2 separate regions of the Homo sapiens genome follow, and region 1 is linked to region 2. The links come from fine-mapping of genetic effects on gene expression. A gene starts in region 2. The other region holds a variant in brackets. All regions are shown on one strand. Distances are from middle to middle.

Evidence for each region. PIP is the estimated chance that this variant, and not a neighbour inherited with it, causes the effect.
Region 1: its variant is fine-mapped to the expression of PSMB11 in testis (GTEx, PIP above 0.99).

Annotation. Positions count from the first base shown.
Region 1 is chr14:23,008,541-23,018,384 of GRCh38, reverse strand. It overlaps C14orf93 (chromosome 14 open reading frame 93), which reads left to right and starts at 8,242. Exons shown (of 7, transcript NM_021944.4): 1 at 8,242-8,284. LOC124903286 (a long non-coding RNA gene) reads right to left here. Exons shown (of 2, transcript XR_007064075.1): 2 at 9,401-9,844. RefSeq lists a silencer at 7,904-8,253. The variant C/T (reference allele first, on the strand shown) is at 5,190.
Region 2 is chr14:23,037,279-23,047,122 of GRCh38, reverse strand. PSMB11 (proteasome subunit beta 11) reads right to left here and starts at 4,911. Exons shown (of 1, transcript NM_001099780.2): 1 at 3,063-4,911. The coding sequence starts at 4,897. The coding sequence ends at 3,995. CDH24 (cadherin 24) reads left to right here. Exons shown (of 13, transcript NM_144985.4): 13 at 1-56.

The DNA of each region.
Region 1 (9,844 bases), 29 kb after region 2:
GAAGGTGCAAGGTTGTGGAAGAACAGGATATTCACATTATCTAAGATAATCACTGTATTAGTTTGCTAAGGCTGCTATAACAAAACACCATAGTCTGAGTGGCTTAAACAACAGAAATTACTTTCTCCCAGTTCTGGAGGCTGTAGGTCCAAGATCAAAGTATCAGCAGTGTTGATTTCTTCTGAAGCCTCAGTCCCCTTGGCTTGCAGAGAGCTGCCTTCTCACTGTATCCTCACATGGTCTTTCCTCTGTGCACCACAGGTATCTCTTTGTGTCCAAATTCCCTCTTCTTATAAGGACACCAGTCAGACTGGCTCTACCCTAAGTGCCTCATTTAACTTAATCACTTCTTTAAAGACTCAGTCTCCAAATACAGTCGAATCCTGAGGTACTGGAGGTTAGGGCTTCAGTATATAAGTTTTAGGGGAACACATTTCAGCCCATAACAATCACTCTATTTATTATTAGTTTACTAATTAATTACAAATGGCAAATATACTTCTACAACAGAGACGTCTAGCAGACATGAATAAACTTGCAGTCACCAATAATAGAACAAACTGACATTATATGCCTCTTGATGTGATACAATAAGAAGTATATAAAATTACCTAAGTAATATTCTCGCTAAAAATGTTTAACCTTGGCCCTGATGTGGTGGCTCATGCCTATAATTCCAGCATTTGGGGAGGCCAAGGCAGGAGGATCCCTTGAGCCCAGGAGTTTGAGACCAGCCGGGGCAACATAGGGGGATCTTGTCTCTACCAAGTAATAACTTTTTAAAATTAGCAGGGCATGGTGGCATGCACTTGTAGTCCCAAGCTACTCAGGAGGCTGAGGCAGGAGGATGGCATGAGCTTTGGATGTCAAGGCTGCAGTGAACTGTGATTACATCACTGCACTCCAGCCTGGGTGACAGAGCAAGACCCTGTATCAAAAAAGAAAAAAAAAAAAAAGCTTAACCTGAACCTAATCACAAGAAAACAGATAAATCAGATTGCAAATAATGTCCTGACTCTTCCAGTAGAAACACCACGAAAAATTCACACACACCCACATGGCAAAGGAGCACAGCACTTAGGTGCAGTGCTGCAGAATCCTGTCCCACGCATTGCAAATGAGCTTGTTCTCGGTCTTGGGACACTTGTGGATGTACCCTGTATCTTCACAGTACTTGATTTTCACAGTAACTGGTTGCCAAGGAGAAAAACCATAAAGGCACCTATAATCCCAGCACTTTGGGAGGCCGAGGTGGGTGGATCATCTGAGGCCAGGAGTTCGAGACCAGCCTGGCCAACATGGTGAGACCCCGTCTCTACTAAAAATGCAAAAATTAGCCGGGACTGGTGGTGCATGCCTGTAATCCCAGCTACTCAGGAGGCTGAGGCAGGAGAATCGCTTGAACCCAGGAGACAGAGGTTGCAGTAAGCCGAGATAGTGCCACTGCACTCCAGCCTGGGTGACAGAGCAAGATTCAGTCTAAAAAAAAAAAAAAATTAGTTGGGCGTGGTGACGGGTGCCTGTAATCCCAGCTACTCAGGAGGCTGAGGCAGGAGAATTGCTTGAACCTGGGAGGGAGAGGTTGCAGAGCCAAGACCATGCCACTGCACTCCAGGGTGGGCAAGAGACTCTATCTCACAACAAACAAACAAATAGAAAACATAAGGGGTACAATTTCACAAAATCATTAGGTTTTAAGATGAGTGTGTGTATTTGAAAGTTTTGTGATGATTGTTTCTTTTCTTGTAGGTTGAAAGAAGCTCAAAGGCAAGAATGTTACTTTTGAATTCCCAAAGTTTCAATTGTAAACAAAAATGACTAAATAAAATATCATTCACAGTTTCATGTTTGTTTGTTTGTTTAGACAGAGTTTGGCTCTTGTCGCCCAGGCTGGAGTGCAATGGCACGATCTTGGCTTGCTGCAACCTCTGCCTCCCAGGTTCAAGTGATTCTCTTGCCTCAGCCTCCCAAGTAGCTGGGATTACAGGCACACACCACGAAGCCCGGCTAATTTTTGTATTTTTAGTAGAGACGGGGTTTCACCATATTGGCCAGGCTGGCCTCCAACTCCTGACCTCAGGTGATTCGCCCACTTCAGCCTCCCAAACTGCTGGGATTACAGACGTGAGTAAGCCACCGTGCCTGGCCTGTTATAGCATTTTAATTTGTTTTGTTTTGGTTTTTGACACTTTTTTTTTAACTGATCTTAAGATGTTCCAGTTGCTTCTACAATTTTTATCAAATTTTTGCATCTAACAATCAAATTCAGATCTTTTTTCTTTAAAATCGAATCTACTTTCACTCCTGCTACAATACAAACCCCTTCTCTCTTCCTTGAGGGCTGTTCTCTGCTGCCTGCCGTCTTCCTTTTCTGTTGTTTCCTTTGCATTACCTTCCACCTTTCTGTACCCTTTCTCAACTCTGAATCTCAGCTCTCTCATACTTTCCTCTCCAGTGTCTCTTAGGACATATTCTCAGCTAGCTGTAGGATTTCCTTCCACTCCTATTCTAAGATGCTCTCCCATGTGTTAACGAATGACTGTCGGAAACAGCTTCCCGGCCTCACTCTAGGGGAAGTTACATTTCACTGTAGGGGAGGCCTCTTTCAGATCTCATTGAACAGAAACAGCCTAAAATAAAAGATCTGCTTGATTCAAAGCCAAATTAGTGATTTTCCTCAATCGACAAGTCATCTGTAAAGTCTAACATTTGAAATTTCAGATGTTTTAGAGTGAAAATTGTAATTTTTAGGTGAAAATGGTATATTCTCCCTATTCTCATTACCTAACAGCACACAAGTTCATTACTCAAACCTTCTACTCAAAGATTCTCCTATGACCATGGGGAAAATAGAAATTTAGGCCGGGCACTGTGGCTCATGCTTGTAATTGTTTGGGAGGCCAAGGTGGGAGGATCACTTGAGCCCAGGAGTTCGAGAACAGCCTGGGCAACGTAGTTAGACTCCATCTCTACAAAATATTTTAAAAATTAGCTGGGCATATTGGCACACACTTGTAGTCTGAGCTACTCGGGAGGTAGAGGCTGCAGTGAGCCATGATTGCACCACTGCACTCCAGCCTGGGTGACAAAGCAAGTGATCCTGTCTCAAAAAGAAAAAGAAAAAAAAAAAGTCCAGGCGCGGTGGCTCAGGCCTGTAATCCCAGGACTTTGGGAAGCCGAGGCGGGCGGATCACCTGAGGTTGGTCGAGGTCGAGACCAGCCTGACCAATATGGAGAAACCCTGTCTCTACTAAAAATACAAAATTAGCTGGGTGTGGTGGTGCATGCCTGTAATCCCAGCTACTTGGGAGGCTGAGGCAGGAGAATTGCTTGAACCCGGGAGGCAGAGGTTGCGGTGAGTCGAGATCGTGCTATTGTACTCCAGCTTGGGCAACAAGAGTGAAACTCTGTCTCAAAAAAAAAAAAAAGACATGGCTTTTCCAACTTAACTTTGACCTTTGTAGTAATGGACTCATAATTAAAAATATATCCCAGGAGACTGTATGGCAGTTATGAACATTCCATTGATCATCAAAGTGAAGACAGCTTGTCTTTCATGGACAGAACGAGAGCAAAAGAGGGTAACAGCAAGGCAGAGTGGGTTTCAATTTAGACAGAGACTAATGAATAGTCAAGAGCACAGGTTCTGTAGTGAGCACACCTGGGTTCAAGCTATGATTCCACTAGTGACCACCATTGAGTTAATTAGCTCAACAACCTCTAGGTAACTTACCAATCCCCCTCTAAGTCTCAGTTTTCTCCTCAGTAAAAGAGGGAGTATAATAGTACTTATCTCACAGAATTGATTAAATGAGATACAGAGTGCCTGGCACCAAGTAAACTCTCAATAACTGTTGATTTTAATAATTATTAACATTTCTGTTTTCCCTTTATCCTAACATTTTTGAAAATATATCACCTGTGGCTGGGCACAGTGGCTCATGCCTGTAATCCCAGCACTTTGGGAGGCCGAGGCAGGTAGATGATCTGAGGTCAGGAGTTCAAGACCAGCCTGGCCAACATGGTGAAACCTGTTTCTACTAAAAATACAAAAAGTTAACCGGGTGTGGTGGCAGCCTCCTGTAGTCCCAGCTACTCTGGAGGCTGAGGCAGGAGAATTGCTTGAACCCAGGAGGCGGGGGTTTCAGTGAGCCGAGATTGTGCCACTGCACTCCAGCCTGGGCAACAAGAGCAAAACTCCATCTCAAAAAAAAAAAAAAAAGAAAATATATCACCTGTGCATTTGAGAATATGAGACGTCCTAGTACATTCTCATCAAGAGTTAATATTTAATATTTTCCTAGTGATCTCATGGCTTTATTTATTTATTTATTTATTTTTTGAGACAGAATCCCACTTTGTCACCCAGGCTGGAGGGCAGTGGTGGAATCTCGGCTCACTGCAACCTCTGCCTCCCAGGTTCAAGCGATTCTCCTGCCTCACCCTACAGAGTAGCTGGGATTACAGGTGCACACCACCACACCTGGCTAAGTAGCTGGGATTACAGGTGCACCCCACTACACCCGGCTAAATTTTGTATTTTAGTAGAGACGGGTTTCACCATGTTGATCAAGCTGGTCTCGAACTCCTGACCTCAAATGATCCACCTGCCTTGGCCTTCCAAAGTGCTCAGATTACAGGCATGAGCCACCACGCCCAGTTAGGCTTGTGTTATTTTTTAGAAGTTTAAATGAAAAGCATATAAAAAGAAACACATGTTGGGCACAGTAGCATGCACCAGCTATTGGGGAGGCTGAGGCAAGAGGATCCCTTGAGTCCAAGAGTTTGAGACCAGCCGAGGCAACATAGTGAGGTCCTGTCTCTAAAAAGAGAAAAAAGAAACACAGAAAGTCTATAACCCTTGAGAAAGTAAACACTAGCACCTCATTTTCAGGTAAAAGGCAAATCTATTGCCTAAGCTAGGGTGCTGCTAGGGTGAAAACAACACTGAAGGCATTAGGCCTTTCTGCTGAGAACTAGATCCTACCAACAATGCCCTGGACGTTGAGAACCAACAATTTTATGGACGAGGCCTGACTGATGGCCAGTGTCAAAATGTGTGTGTGAGTGTGTGTGTGTATGTTGAACAGCTTGATAAGACAGCTGGCTTGGGGGTTCAGGTCTGTCGCCTATTAGCTATGTAAATTTGTAGTAAGTACTCTCTGAACCTGTTTCTTGTAAAATGGTGA[C/T]GCCACTAATCTAACTTGGCTACAATCAAATTATCTAATATCCAGGCCATATTTAATTTTCCCAAGTATCCTGTTAGTGTCCAGGATAGCATTTTTTCTTCTGACCCAGATCATACTTTGCATGTAGTTGTCATGTCCCTAGATTATTATTATTTTTGAGACGAAGTCTTGCTCTGTCACCCAGGCTGGAGTGCAGTGGCACCATCTCGGCTCACTGCAATCTCCGCCTTCCGGGTTCAAGTGATTAATGTGCCTCAGCCTCCGGAGTAGCTGGGACTACAGGCATGCACCACTACACCCAGCTAATTTGTGTATTTTTAGGAGAGACAGGGGTTTCACTATGTTGCCCAGGCTGGTTTCCAACTCCTGAGCTCAAGGGATCTGCCGTGCCGCTTCGGTCTCCCAAAGTACTGGAATTACAGACATGAGCCACTGCGCCCGGCCAAAAAAAATTTATTTTTAAGTGGCACGATCTCAGCTCACTGCAACTTCTGCCTCCCAGGTTAAAGGGATTCTCCTGCCTCAACGTCCCAAGTAGCTGGGATTACAGGCGTGCGCCACCAAGCCCAGCCAATTTTTGTATTTTTAGTAGAGACGGGGTTTCACCATGTTGGCCAGGCTGGTCTTGAACTCCTGACCTCAGGTGATTTGCCTGCCTCATCCTCCCAAAGTGCTGGGATTACAGGCGTGAGCCACCACACCCGGCCTTATTATTTTATTATTATTATTTTTTGAGATGGAGTCTCGCTCTGTCCTCCAGCCTGGAGTGCAGTGGCGCAATCTTGGCTCACTGCAACCTCTGCCTCCTGGGTTCAAGCAATTCTCCTACCTCAGCCTCCCAAGTAGCTGGGACTACAGGTGCGCATTACGATGCCCAGCTAACTTTTTGTATTTTTAGCAGAGACGGGGTTTCACCATGTTGGTCAGTCTGGTCTCGAACTCCTGACCTCGTGATCCGCCTGCCTGGACGACAGAGAAAGACTCTGTCTCGAAAAATAAAAAATAAAAAAAAAAAATAATAATAATAATACCTAAATTGATGCACATAAAGTGTTCAGAACAGTTACTTCCTGCACAATAAGTGTTCACAAATTGCTACTTACTATAGAAGGGAAATTCTTGTGAGATGTGAGTTTCAGAATCTGTGTTTTAGCTAGAAAAGAAATTCACTTATTTGATCATAAATGATTTTTGGCCCGGCATGGTGGCTCACGCCTGTAATCCCAGCACTTTGGGAGGCTGAGGCTGGTGGATCACGAGGTCAAGAGATCCAGACCATCCTGACTAACACGGTGAAACCCCGTCTCTACTAAAAATACAAAAAATTAGCCAGACTTGGTGGCGGGCGCCTGTAGTCCCAGCTACTCGGGAGGCTGGGGCAGGAGAATGGCGTGAACCTGGGAGGTGGAGCTTGCAGTGAGCCGAGATCGGGCCACTGCACTCCAGCCTGGGCGACAGAGCGAGACTCCAGCTCAAAAATAAATATAAATAAATAAATGATTTTTTTGGTCAGTGTTTACTAAATATCTACAATTATGCCAGCTACTGCAGTAAGAATCAAACAGTTCCTGGATGGAAAAACAATTTTAAGATATGATCACTGACCTCAAACAGTTTACTGGAGTGAAATTACTAAAATATGTGAATCAAGGTAGAGTTACGTGCCGCTAACTGGAGTACACATGAAATTCATGTTGATGGGAGCGGAGAGAAGGAAGTAAGCAGTCTGTGCTGAAAGAGAATGGATAAAAATTGACCAGTCAGGGAAGGGGAGACGCATAATTCAGGCCAAAAAAAAAAAAAAAAGCCACTTGAGTAAAGGAATAATACAAGATTGATAAGACGAGCGTAGAGGGAACTAAGAACAAATATGTGCCCAGGCGCGGTGGCTCACGCCTGTAATCCCAGCACTTTGGGAGGCCAAGGCGGGAGGATAACTTGAGGTCAAGAGCTCAAAACCAGCCTGGCCAACATGGTGAAACCCCGTCACTACTTAAAAAAAAAAAATAGCCGGGCGTGGTGGCATATATCCGTAATCCCAGCTACTCGGGAGGCTGAGGCAGGAGAATCGCTTGAGCCTCGGAGGTGGGGGTTGCAGTGAGCCGAGATCACATCACTGAAAAAAAAAAAAAAAAGGCAGGGTGGGCACATCACCTCAAGTCAGGAGTTCAGGACCAGCCTGGCCAACATGGCGAAACCCTGTCTCTACCAAAAACAAAAAAAATTAGCTGGGTGCAGTGGCGCACGCCTGTAGTCCCAGCTTCTTGGGAGGCTGAGGCAGGAGAATCGCTTGGGCGGGGTGGGGGTGGGGGTGGGGGTGGGGGCGGAGGGGCGGAGTTTACAGTGAGCGAAGATCATACCACTGCACTCCAGCCTGGGTGACAGAGCGAGACTCTGTCTAAATAAATAAATAAATAACAAATAGGTGGGTGGGACCAGATTATGGGTGGCTTAAAATCCAGGTATACCAGCTGTCTTCCTGGAAATAAAGAGGAGCCACTTTAGTTTTGAGAATGTGGTCTGAGCCAGGTAGATAAACTGGGAGCTCGGGCTGAAGTGTAAGACTTCAGAAAGATGTTCCATACGTGAATGTTCATTTAAACGTGGGGGTGTTAAGCAACACACGTGACCCAGAGACATTTCACCTGGAAACCGGAGTAGGGCCCACGCACCAAGTCCCTGATGTTTAATTGCAGTCTAGAATGTTACTGACTAGTTCACTCAATTTAACAAAGTGTCCGGAGGTCGCTCACTGGATTGTTATGCTGGTGACTGGGCCTTGTTTCACTGAGAAAAAAAGATGGGAAAGGGTGACAGGACGGTGAGAAAGTGAAAGGGAGAGAGGTGGGAAAGGGGTCTGCCAAGGTCCAGGCGAGGTTGGGGGTCGGGGGTCCGGCGGCCCTCAGGGCCCCCCCCGCCCCCAACTCCGGGGTTGGCGCCTCGGGCGCGGCGCGTGTGCTTGCGGGCGGGGCGCCCCGCGGCCGCGGACGGCCAATCCGGGAGGGCGTCCGGGGAGGGGCGGGGCTTGCCGGCTCGGGCTCCGCGAGTCCTCCTTTTTGCACACACACGAATACAAAGAGCCATACGACCTTCGGGTATCCTTTTTCCATTTTTTTTCCTCCTTAATCTTGTGTGTGTTTTCAAATTTTTTAAAAATAGAGATCTGTAGCAGTGTTGGGGTGAGGAAACTGTTGCTAAGGGGAATTTGCTCTTTCCCCCATTTCTTTTTCTGTCTCTCTTCCTCTTTCTTTTTCCTGGTCAAGGTTTTAAATATACCAAGAAGTTGAGAAGCAGGATGGCCGTGTACAACCGTTTCCGGCCAAATTTATAGTTTTTTTTTCTTTTTTTTAAATCACATTTTAAGAACTGGTAGATTTTTGTGGTTGAGGGACTTTAAAAATTTAGCCGCTTGGGAAGTACAGAATTTTTTAAGCGGGCTGAAGGGATAATGTAAATTTCTGCCACAGGCAACATCGAAGGAAGCAGAGAGATTTGAGGCTCCCTCATAAAGCCGTTTGCGTGCTTTTTACACACCCACCCCCCCAGAACCAAAACCAAGTGGCTGGGATGTGGCACTTGTCCAAGGCCAATAAGTTAATATTGGGATATTATAATGGAGACATTCATTTCCCTAGGGAAGGGGGAAAGACCTTAATTACAGTGTGTCTTTCACACACATTTTCATTAGAACATTTGTGTGTGTGTGTGTGTGTTTCTTGAAACAAATTTGTAAAGTTATAACTTGGGGTTATTTGTGTATATGTACAATATGTGTGTATATGTGCCATATCAGATTTTATTTTCAAAAGTGATAAATATATCTGGTTTTATGTGTGCAAAGTATCCCCTAGGATGTGAATTTTTTTCCGTTGTCTTCCCAAATGTGATCAAAATATTTTGTGTGCAAAGCAGAGCTTAGAAGAAATCCTATGCTTAGCATACTTAGGCACTTTCTATGTGCATTTACTATATTTTTCTGCTCCTAAAGGATCAGAATAATGAATAATTAAATAATTGCCAAGGAGTATATAGTCCATGTGGCAAATGAGAGTAGGCAATTTATTGAATCTGTGGTTCAAAGCCTTCAGTGACTGTTTTGCCTAAGTGGTTTTGCTTTTTATTGTCTCACGTTCTTAAGTGTACAGCTGTGTATATTTTGGCCTTTATGTGTGGTTTGGTTGGTGTGTTCAGAAGGGAAGTTCTTTCTTGGCTTTTTGACAAAATGGTCGTTTATTGGTTGGAATATTCGAAAAGCTCCACAGCTGGCAAAGTATCAGGAAAAAAATCCAGTCAAGTGTAATTCTCAAAAACTGTTCATGGTGATGGTGATGGGGAGCCAAGAGGATGCAAAGGCAAATAATAGAAGGGATAAGAAATGCCTTTTGGTTATCATGTTGCATTTTTAGAATGGAAAGCTTCTCATTTCTAAGAGTCACAGAAAAAAGTATATGAATTAGAGAAAAACAGGCTCGCAGAGCAGAACCTCCTGTTATAGGAGCCCTATTTTCACTTCATTCTGTTACAGAATCACTATCTCCTCATTAGAAGTTGTATGGAAAATATCTGTATCCAAATTTGTATTCGCAGATTGGAGTGAAAGCATAGGAGGTATATGAGGTGCTGAGGGAGAAACTGGAATGTCACAAATGCAGTGA
Region 2 (9,844 bases):
AAGGGGAGGGGCCTCCATCTCTAATTTCATAATAAACAAACACTTTATTTTGTAAAGCTGGAGCCCTGCTTCTGTTTTTGCACTCAGGTTTCTATACAAAGCTTCATCGTCCCAAAGGACGGGAGGCGAGGCCTAGCCTATTGCCTCCCAGTTCATTCTCCTTTCTCCTTGGGGGAAAATACACTTCACCTCCTTCTAGATAGGGGAAGACTTGGGTTAATTCCATGAGGGAGTAAGGAGATGATGACTCTGCCCCACTCTCACCACCAACTTTCTGGGTCCTCTGTTGGTCTCAAGCGGTCCAAGAAAATTAAGATATAAGGATTCAGCCAGGCGCGGTGGCTCTTGTCTGTAAATCCAGCAGTTTGGGAGGCTGAGGCGGGTGGATCACTTGAGGTCAGGAGTTCAAGACCAGCCTGGCCAATGGTAGAAACCCCATCTCTACTAAAAATACAAAAAATTAGCAGGGCATGGTGGCGCATGTCTGTAGTCCCAGCTACTCAGGAGGCTGAGGCAGGAGAATCACTTGAATCTGGGAGGCGGAGGTTGCAGTGAGCCAAGATCGCGCCACTGCGCTCCAGCCTGGGTGACAGAGCGAGACTCTGTCTCAAAAAAAAAAAAAAAAAAGATATAGGGATTGGTCAGAGGGCAAGATGGGCAGGAGAAGTAGAGGGTGAAGTGTGAGAGCTGCTGAGAAGAGGGCCGGAGGGATAAAAGACTAAGAGAGGAAGGGGGATTCTGGACTAGGAAAATAATGGGGGTGGCAGGCAGCAGCGGGGACAAACCAGCCTTTCCTGGGGCTCGTAGTGCCAAGTGGGGAAAGGGCGGACCAGAGTGAGACAGTCACATTGAATCTGGGCCCGCTGCTCCCACCTTTAACTCTCCCCTAGGCCATGGTCTTAGTCTTTGCAGAACACAAAGGAGGAGGGAGAGGACCAGGGAGGCAGGCTGTTGACGGACAGAAGCAGTCAACTAGGTGGGAGCTGAGCCAGAACTGCAATTATCTCCCAAAGTCCAGAGAAGGGGTCCACCCAGGAACCAGCATGAGAGCTCAGGCCTCTCAACTCCAGGGCTCCAGAGGCACACACAGGTAGGCGAGGTAGGATAGGTCCTTGTGACTCCCCCTTCGTATGGGGTACTGGCAGCTGGGGAAAGCTGCTTCAATGTGAACATACCTTCCCTCATACCTTCCCCACCTGCTTGATAAGGACAAGCAGGAGGTAGGAGAACAAGGCCCCTCCCTCTAGTGCTGGAATTCAGGTCATTTACTCTGCTGAAGGCTGGAAGCCTGGACCTCTGACAGTCCAAGGGCTTGTGCAAGAGCGGGCTATCCCCCCGAACTCTCCAGAGACTGTGAGGAGGTAGGCACCACCCCAAGCAGGGCATCAGAAGGACAAGGTCTTCTGGTTCGGGGCAGGAAGGGGAAGATCTCCGCCCCTTTGGTCTCACCGTGATATCTGTATCAAGCCTTCAGGAATTAGTAGAGAAATGGGGGAAATGACTCATGGGCTACTCTTAGACAGTGAGGGGTGCATTGGAATGGGATGTTGGCCTTTGTCTACCCAGCCCTCCCTAAGACTCTCCTAAGGTCCTCCCCCAAACTCATTAAAAACATAGCGGAAAATAATAGGGCAGAGGGAACCAGGCTTGTCAGCCAGACCCATGGGCTCATCTCTGGCCTCAACTACCTCAACCTCTGGAAGGACAGGACCTGTCAAAGGGAGTGAAGATGGGTGGGACTATGGAAGGAAAAGAGAGGAGGGTCCCCCCACCCTGAGTTCTGCCCTCCTGGTCTGGTTCTGCCCTCTTGGTCTGAGTTCAATTCTCCTGCTTGAGTCTGGGAATGGGGGTGAGGCGCCAAGCATCTCAGGGGGAGACAGCTGCACGCAGTTCACAGCCCACCTTTGACTGCGCTCAGGTGGCAATCCCAGGTCCCAGGCCACCCCTCCCTGCCTGTCTTTTCTCACTTCCTGAGAGGCTCAGGATAGGGCTGGGAGGATGAGGAAGTAGAGAACTGCTGGCATGAGCCTGTCCCCCACCTCCTCTTTACTCTGGAGCACTCCCCAAAAGAAGTGATAAGGCCTGGCAGTCTTCCCGCTGAGAGGCTGATCTCCTTATTCAGGTGTCGCTCTTTCTCTTTCAGTCTGTTTCTTGTCTCTGCACACAGGAACTGCACACGCATCGCCTGCCACACTCGTGTGAATCCCATCCTGTATCACTCACCTACACCTGGGCACAGAACTACATACACCTGTGGACATGAATATGCACCCTCTTATGCCGAGTCAAACACCTGAACGCCATGCAAAAGCTGCCCCTCCTCACATGCTTCCTCCAGGACTAGGCCACTGGGAGCCCTGCCTCCCAGTTAGCAGTCCCAGAGTCCCACATCTCCTCCCCTGAGGCTGGGGAGTGAGCAAGGGGTAAAGAAGGGTGGCCGCAGAGGCCACTGGCCAGATTCCTTGAGCCTGGCTTGAAGGCCAGTCCCCCCAAACTGGACACCTTTCTGTGGTGTCCACCACAATTCCTCCCCACTGTGTCCTTTCTGGGGTTTTCCCTTCTGGAGCCCCCTGACCTTTCCTCCCCCACCCCAGTCACCCGCTCTGCACCAGAGTCTGGAGGTCTGTCTGCCCAGCTCCTGCCTGGAGGAATGCTTAATCTGGGGTGCAAGATTAAGGCTCGGGCCTAGGCTGGAGCCAGGGATGAGGGGTGTCCAAGAGGGAAGGCAGGCGGCTGTTATTCTTGGGACTGGAAGCTTTAGGATTGGATGTGAGGAAAGCAACTTCAGCACCCTTCCTTCAGGCCCTATCTCGTAGGTTAACAGTGCTTTCTCTCTCATTTGGCCAGGGGACAGCAGGGCAGTGGCCCTCCTGGAGGTGTTAGTCTGGATCTTCAAGTCTGGGCTTCTAGGGGAGTGGGAGCAGGGACAGGAGGGGCAGGAGAGGATGTGCTAGCCAGACAGTTCCCACTGGCACAGCCACCTCTCTCTTGTCTTCATTCTCCAGAGGGAGCATCAGGAAGGAGGGGCTGGAAAGAAGGCAAAGGGAAGAAAGGAGGAGGGGAAGTCTGGCAGCGGCACCGCCAGGCCCAGAAAGCTGGAGAGCAAGGGTGGGCTGTGGGGGATGGCTCCAGGCCTGGAAGATAAAGCCACATGAGCCACCAGGCAGGGGACTGGCCTAGCTACTTTCTCCCTCCACATCCCTCTCCGGAAGCCTGCAGGGAAGAGAGGAAAGGCAGGGCAGAGGGCCTGGGAGGGGGAGCTGTGCTGAAAGAGCATGGACCCTGGAGGAGAAGGCCTGGATCTAAGTGTCATCCCTGCCACTTACTGTGTGACCCTGGCAAGCCACATAACCCTTTGAACCTGATTCCTCTTCTGTAAAGAGAGACTCATTTTTACCTCAAAGGGTTGCGATGAGAACTGCATTCAGTAAAGGGATAATCATTCTAGTCATGATGGTCAAGTCAGAGAAGGAGAGCAGATAAGACAAGCCCATCACCATCCAAAGGGTGTCTATCACTACGCCTCGTTCTGAGAGGGGCTGCTCCCTTCCCGGGTGCCCCATCTTACCATGCTGACAAAGTGATCAGGAGAAAAAGACAAAGACGCTGAAGCTGAGACACATAAAGGACCGAAACTAAGAGAAACTGGGGATGAGATGATGGAAAAAAGCAGAGAAGATGGCAAGAAAAGAGGGTCTAGCACCTAGCATGCGTCTGGCATGCAGTAGGCACACTGCAAGTGTTGAATGAAAGACGGACTTGGTGCCAAGAAGGAGGCTGGACCAATCCACTGGGAGTCAATAGGAACTTGTTGGGCAGAGCCATAATAGCTCTGGGAGTCATGAAAGGATGGAGACTTGCAATAAATGAAGCCAGCAACCCATACAGGCTAGAGCCAGACGCTGTGAGGCTGCTGCCAGCGGGACCCTCCCCCTGCTGCCCATCCTCCCACCCACTCCCCAGGCCTACACCATCCCCAACCAAGTCCTGCTTCTCACACCGTCTCAGTCCCTGCTGGCATCCTGGAGTCTCCTGGTGTCACCTCCCCTGGCCCCACAGAGAGCTCTCTATCTTCTGCAGCTCTGTGGGCAGTGGCAGGCTCAGGATGGGCATGGCTGGCATCCTCCTCTGGCTCCGGCTCCAGGAGCTTCTGTAACTCCACGTACAGCACACAGGCATCACTGCGTGACACATGCTCCCATCCACTCTCCCGCACGTGGAAAAGGTCTACAGAGCCCCCTGAATAGGCATCACGGTGGGTGGCGTGGGCCACGGCGCAGCGAGCCAGGGCGTAGGCTTCCTGGGTGCTCATGTCGTAGCGATAGCCACGGTCTAGCACGCCGTAGGCATAGGGAGATCCAGAGCCCACAGAGAAGATGTCCCCCTGCAGGCGGGTGCCGTCGCTATAGACGTAGAAGAGCTCAGGGCCAGAGCGGTCCCAGCCGCAGAGGGCAGTGGCCACACAGAGATCCAGTCCCCGGTATTGAGACATCATGGCTGACAAGAGCTTGGCAGCACTGGCCACACTGGGCAGCTGACCCTCCCTCAGTTCCCGAAGCCGCAGCTCCCGCTGTAATACCCGATACCAGGTAGCACAGTCGGCAGAGGTGCCAGAGGTGGTACCCAGGAGGTGCTGGTGCACAGGGATGACCTTGCATGAGGCTGGACACGCCACATAGCTGCCACAGGAGGAACGCGTGTCAGCTGCAGCAATGACTCCATGACGGAAGCGGAAGGCCAGAGTGGTGGTGCCGTGGGCCAGTCTGGGGCCATGGATCTGCAGGAAGGTTTGAGGGTCACAACCCCGGGGCACAGCCCAGCCGCCAGCCCGAGGCAGGTGAGGTGATGGTCCCTGGGTGTCAGGGGACTGCCACTTGCACACATCCTGCAGAGCCATCCCTGGGGCTGAATGAAGTTTGGAAGAAGCAAGCCAGGAATTTGTGGCTGGGGTCTGGTGGGATAGGAGGGACGCTACAGAGAAGCTGGGCCACAGCCAGAACCGGCCAGGAAGGTGTGTGAGCTGACGCTTCATTTCTCCTCAACCCCCAATTCAGGCTTTGGGATTGGCTGATGGAGCAGCCCCCTTCATCTCAGAGGACAGCTGAAAGGAGACAGGATGAGGGCTGTAGAGTCTCCAGCACTAGGAAGACGCTGCCTTCACGGTCAGACCTTCACCTTCTGCTGCCCATGACGCATCTGAGAGTCACCCAAAGAGTCTCCTGTCTGTCATCCTCCAACTATCTGGAGTTGGGCGGGGGGGGCTGGGGTAATGCAAAGAAACATGAGCACAAATGGATGGAGCAGGGCTGGGCTCCTTGTTTCTCCCATGCGGGGCACTGGGCACGTAGAGACAAATAAGGCCCTGTCCCTGGCCTGAGAGGGCTCCCAGCCTAGGACGAGGTAGACAATTCAGTGGACTGATGTGGTCAGAATACAGCGCTGTAACCCCACTGAGGCAGGAGACCTTGGTGCTGGGGACTCCCTTCAGAGATATGGGAGCAAGGAACTCAGCTCATACTTCAAACTCAAGGGAAAGATGGGGAAAGAAAAATGGACTGAGGCTGGGCACAGTGGATCACACCAGTAATCTTAGCACTTTGAGAGACCAAGGCAGGGGGATGGCTTGAGCCCAAGAGTTCGAGACCACCCTGGGCTACATATCAAGACCCCCATCTCTACAAAATATGTAACAATTAGCCTGGGACAGGCTCGGAGGCTCATGCCTCCCAGCACTTTGGGAGGCCGAGGCAGGTGAATCACGAGGTCAGGAGTTCGAGACCAGCCTGGCCAATATGGTGAATCCCCATCTCTACTAAAAAATTAGCTGGGTGTGGTGACGCACACTTGTAGTCCCAGCTGCTCAGGAGGCTGAGGCAGGAGAATTGCTTGAACCAGAAGGCGGAGGTTGCAGTGAGCTGAGATCGTGCCACTGCACTCCAGCCTGGGTGACAGAGCGAGACTCCATCTCAAAAAAAAAAAAAATTAGCCAAGCATGGTGGCACATGCCTGTAGTCCCAGCTACTCAGGAAACTGAGGTGAAAGGATCACCTGAGTCCAAGAGGTCAAGGCTTCAGTGAGCCGTGATTGTGCCACTGCACTCCTGCCTGGGCGACACAGTGACACCCTGTCTCAATAAAAAATAAAGGAAAATTTAAAAAAATAAAAATAAAAAAGGCCGCACATGGTGGCTCATGCCTGTAATCCCAGCACTTTGGGAGACAGAGGCGGGCGGATCACCTGAGGTCAGGAGTTTGAGACCAGCCTGGCCACCATGGTGAAACCCCCGTCTCTACTGAAAATACAAAAAAAATCAGCCGGGTGTGGTGGTGGATGTCTGCAATCCTAGCTGCTTGGGAGGCTGAGGCACGAGAATCGCTTGAACCCGGGAGGTGGAGGTCGCAGTGAGCTGCCATTGCACTCCAGCCTGGGCAACAAGAGCGAAACTCCATCTCAAAAATTAATTAATTAATTAATTAATTAAAAGTGGACTAAAGCAAAGACGAGAAAAAAGAGCAAGAGAACTTTGTAACAGCGGAGAGGAGAAAGAGGCTGAAATATCTTCCACAAAGGCAGATTGCTGAGGAATGAAGGAAACTAGAACCTGAAGGTCTCTTTCTCCCTTGCTTTAGAGATAAATATGTCCTTCTATCTGTATACAGAGAAGGCATTCCTGACAGTTCTCTGGCAGTATGCCTTTGACTTGTGTTGAAGTCCAAAGGATCTAGTGGCCTTCTAGCTCCTGCTCCCCCTTCTGCCTAATAGTTCACAATGGCAACAGAGTGGCTTGTAATTCCAGGGCAGGAGAAACAACTGATCTTAACTCCATAATGTTGAGTCTATAAGTCTTAGACCAACCAGGGGTGTTAGAGTGGTGGGGTTGGTGGACCCTGATAGCTGACCCTTCAGAAAGTCGAAGTCAAGGCCAAGTGTGTTGGCTCACGCCTGTAATCTCAGCACGTTGGGAGGCCAAGGCAGGTGAATCACTTGAGCCCAGGAATTCGAGATCAGCCTGGGCAACATGGCGAAACCTCACCTCTACAAAAAATACAAAAAATTAGCCGGGTGTGGTGGTGTGGACCTGTAGTCCCAGCTACTTGGAAGGCTGAGGTGGGAGGATCACTTGAGCACTCACTGAATGAGGCTGCAGTGAGTAAGATTGTGCCACTGCACTCCATGCACTCTAGCCTGGGCAACAAAGTAAGACCCTGTCTCAGAAAAAAAAAAAAAAATAGCCAGTTAATTGGGGCAGAGTGACAAGCTGCAACTACTCCAGCAACATATGCCGTACATATATTATACTAAACATTGCAGCTCAAGGTGGTGCTGTGGAAATGGATTTATTTGAAGAAACAGACCCACACACAAAGGAAAGAGTCTGGACCCTCCAGACATCATGATGGTGGGGCTGTGGCATCATAGCTTTCTGGGGTCTCACTACTAAGGAAAAGTGTAAACCTGGTCATGGGAAAGTTGGAGAAACTCAAAGAGCATGCTAAGGTCCAACCAGTCCTTCTCTTCTCCTTGGTGTAGGACCACCAGGAAATCTTGCTGAAAGGTAAGGATATATCTTCTTTCTTTCTTTCTTTTTGAGACGGAGTTTCGCTCTTGTCATCCAAACTGGAGTGCAATGGCGTGATCTTGGCTCACTGTAACCTCTGCCTCCCAGGCTCAAGCGATCCTCCTGCCCAGCCTCCCAAGTAGCTGGGATTACAGGCACCCCCAACACACCCAGGTAATTTTTGTACTTTTAGTAGAGACAGGGTTTTGCCATGCTGGCCAGGCTGGTCTCGAACTCCTGACCTGAGGTGATCCGCCCACCTGGGCCTCCCAAAGTATTAGGATTACAGGCGTGAGCCACTGCGCCTAGCCTAGAGTATATCTTCTTTCTAAAGGCTAAGTCTCAGACTCTTTATAGATGGATTGCCACCTCCCTAGATCAAGCCATTATCAAGTCAGGTCTGGACAGTTGAATGACCTCCTAATTAAGCACTCACCAGTCTCCCATTGTAATCTTACCCTCTACATGGACATGTTTTCCTAAAGTATCACTCAAATCCTGTGTTTTCTCTGCTAGAAAAACTTGGAGGGTTATAAGATAAAATCAAAACTACCTCTTCTATCCCAAGCTGGCACGTAAGACCCACTATGGTCCAACCTAAATCTATCTATCACAGGCTCTTTTCTCTCTATTCCTAACACACCTCCCACCTCCCTTTCACCTGTTTGAATCCTATTCCACAGTCTGGCTTAAGTACCACCTATTGTGAAATTCCTTCCCAGGTATGGGCTGAGAAAGGAGAGGCTGTGAGTGCACCAAGTCAGATTTAGAAAAATGAATCCAGACCTTGACAAAGCCATCCTGGACCTACAGCCTCTTTCCAATCTATATTGACTCCCTCGCCCACCTCTGAACCACAGCATTTATCATTTGTACTTCTCCTTAATGAGGTCCCCAGGAATAGGGACCCTGGAGCAGAGAACGCATGTGAGGTAAGTTGGGAATGGATTATGGAAGGCCTTGAATGCTATGCTGAGGAGCTTGAATTCACAAAACTTTTTTTTTTTTTTTTTTTTTTTTGAGACGGAGTCTCACTCTGTCGCCCAGACTGGAGTGCAGTGGCACAATCTCTGCTCACTGTAACCTCTGCCTCCCGGGTTCAAGCAATTCTCCTGCCTCAGCCTCTAGAGTAGCTAGGACTACAGGCGGTGCCACTACGCCTGGCTAATTTTCTGTATTTTTAGTAGTGACAGGGTTTCACCGTGTTAGTCAGGATGATCTTGATTTCCTGACCTCGTGATCCGCCCACCTCGGCCTCCCAAAGTGCTGGGATTACAGGCGTGAGCCACCGCGCCTGGCCCACAGAACATTTTTAAGCAGGTGAGTGTTAAGATCGAGATGATGTTTTAGGCTGGGCGCAGCGGCTCACGCCTGTAATCCCAGCACTTTGGGAGGCTGTGGCGGGCAGATCACCTGAGGTCAGGAGTTCAAGACCAGCCCGCCCAACATGGCAAAATCTTGTCTCTACTAAAAATAGAAGAAAAAAAATTAACTGGGCCTGGTGGCGCACGCCTGTAATCCCAGCTACTCGGGAGGCTGACGCAGGAGAATTGCTTGAACCTGGGAGGCAGAGGTTGCAGTGAGCAGAGATCGTGCCACTGCACTCCAGCCTGGGCGACAATAGCAAAACTCAATTAAAAAAAAAAATGGTGTTTTAGGAAAACGAATCTGATGCTGTGCAGAATGAATTAGAGAGTGACAATTTAGACCCATAAATCAGTTAGGAGAAGGCCAGGCATGGTGGTTCACACCTGTAATCCCAGCACTTTGGAAGACTGAGGCAGACAGATCGTCTGAGGTTGGGAGTTCAAGACCAGCCTGGCCAATATGGCAAAATCCCATCTCTACTTAAAATACAAAAAAAAAAAAAATTATCCAGGCAATTCATCCTGGCTAACATGGTGAAACCCCATCTCTACTAAAAAATACAAAAAAAAACAAAAATTAGCGGGCATGGTGGCGGGCGCCTGTAGTCCTAGTTACTCGGGAGGCTGAGGCAGGAGAATGGCGTGAACCCGGGAGGCGGAGCTTGCAGTGAGCCAAGATTGTGCCACTGCACTCCAGCCTGGGTGACAGAGCGAGACTCCGTCTCAAAAAAAAAAAAAATTATCCAGGTATGGTGGCACACACCTGTAGTTCCAGCTACTTGGGAGGCTACGGCAGGAGAATCACTTGAATCCAGGAGGTAGAGGTTGCAGTGAGCCAATATTGCGCCACTGCACTCCAGCCTGGGCGACAGAGCGAGACTCCATCTCAAAAAAATAAAATAAAATAAGGAGAATATTT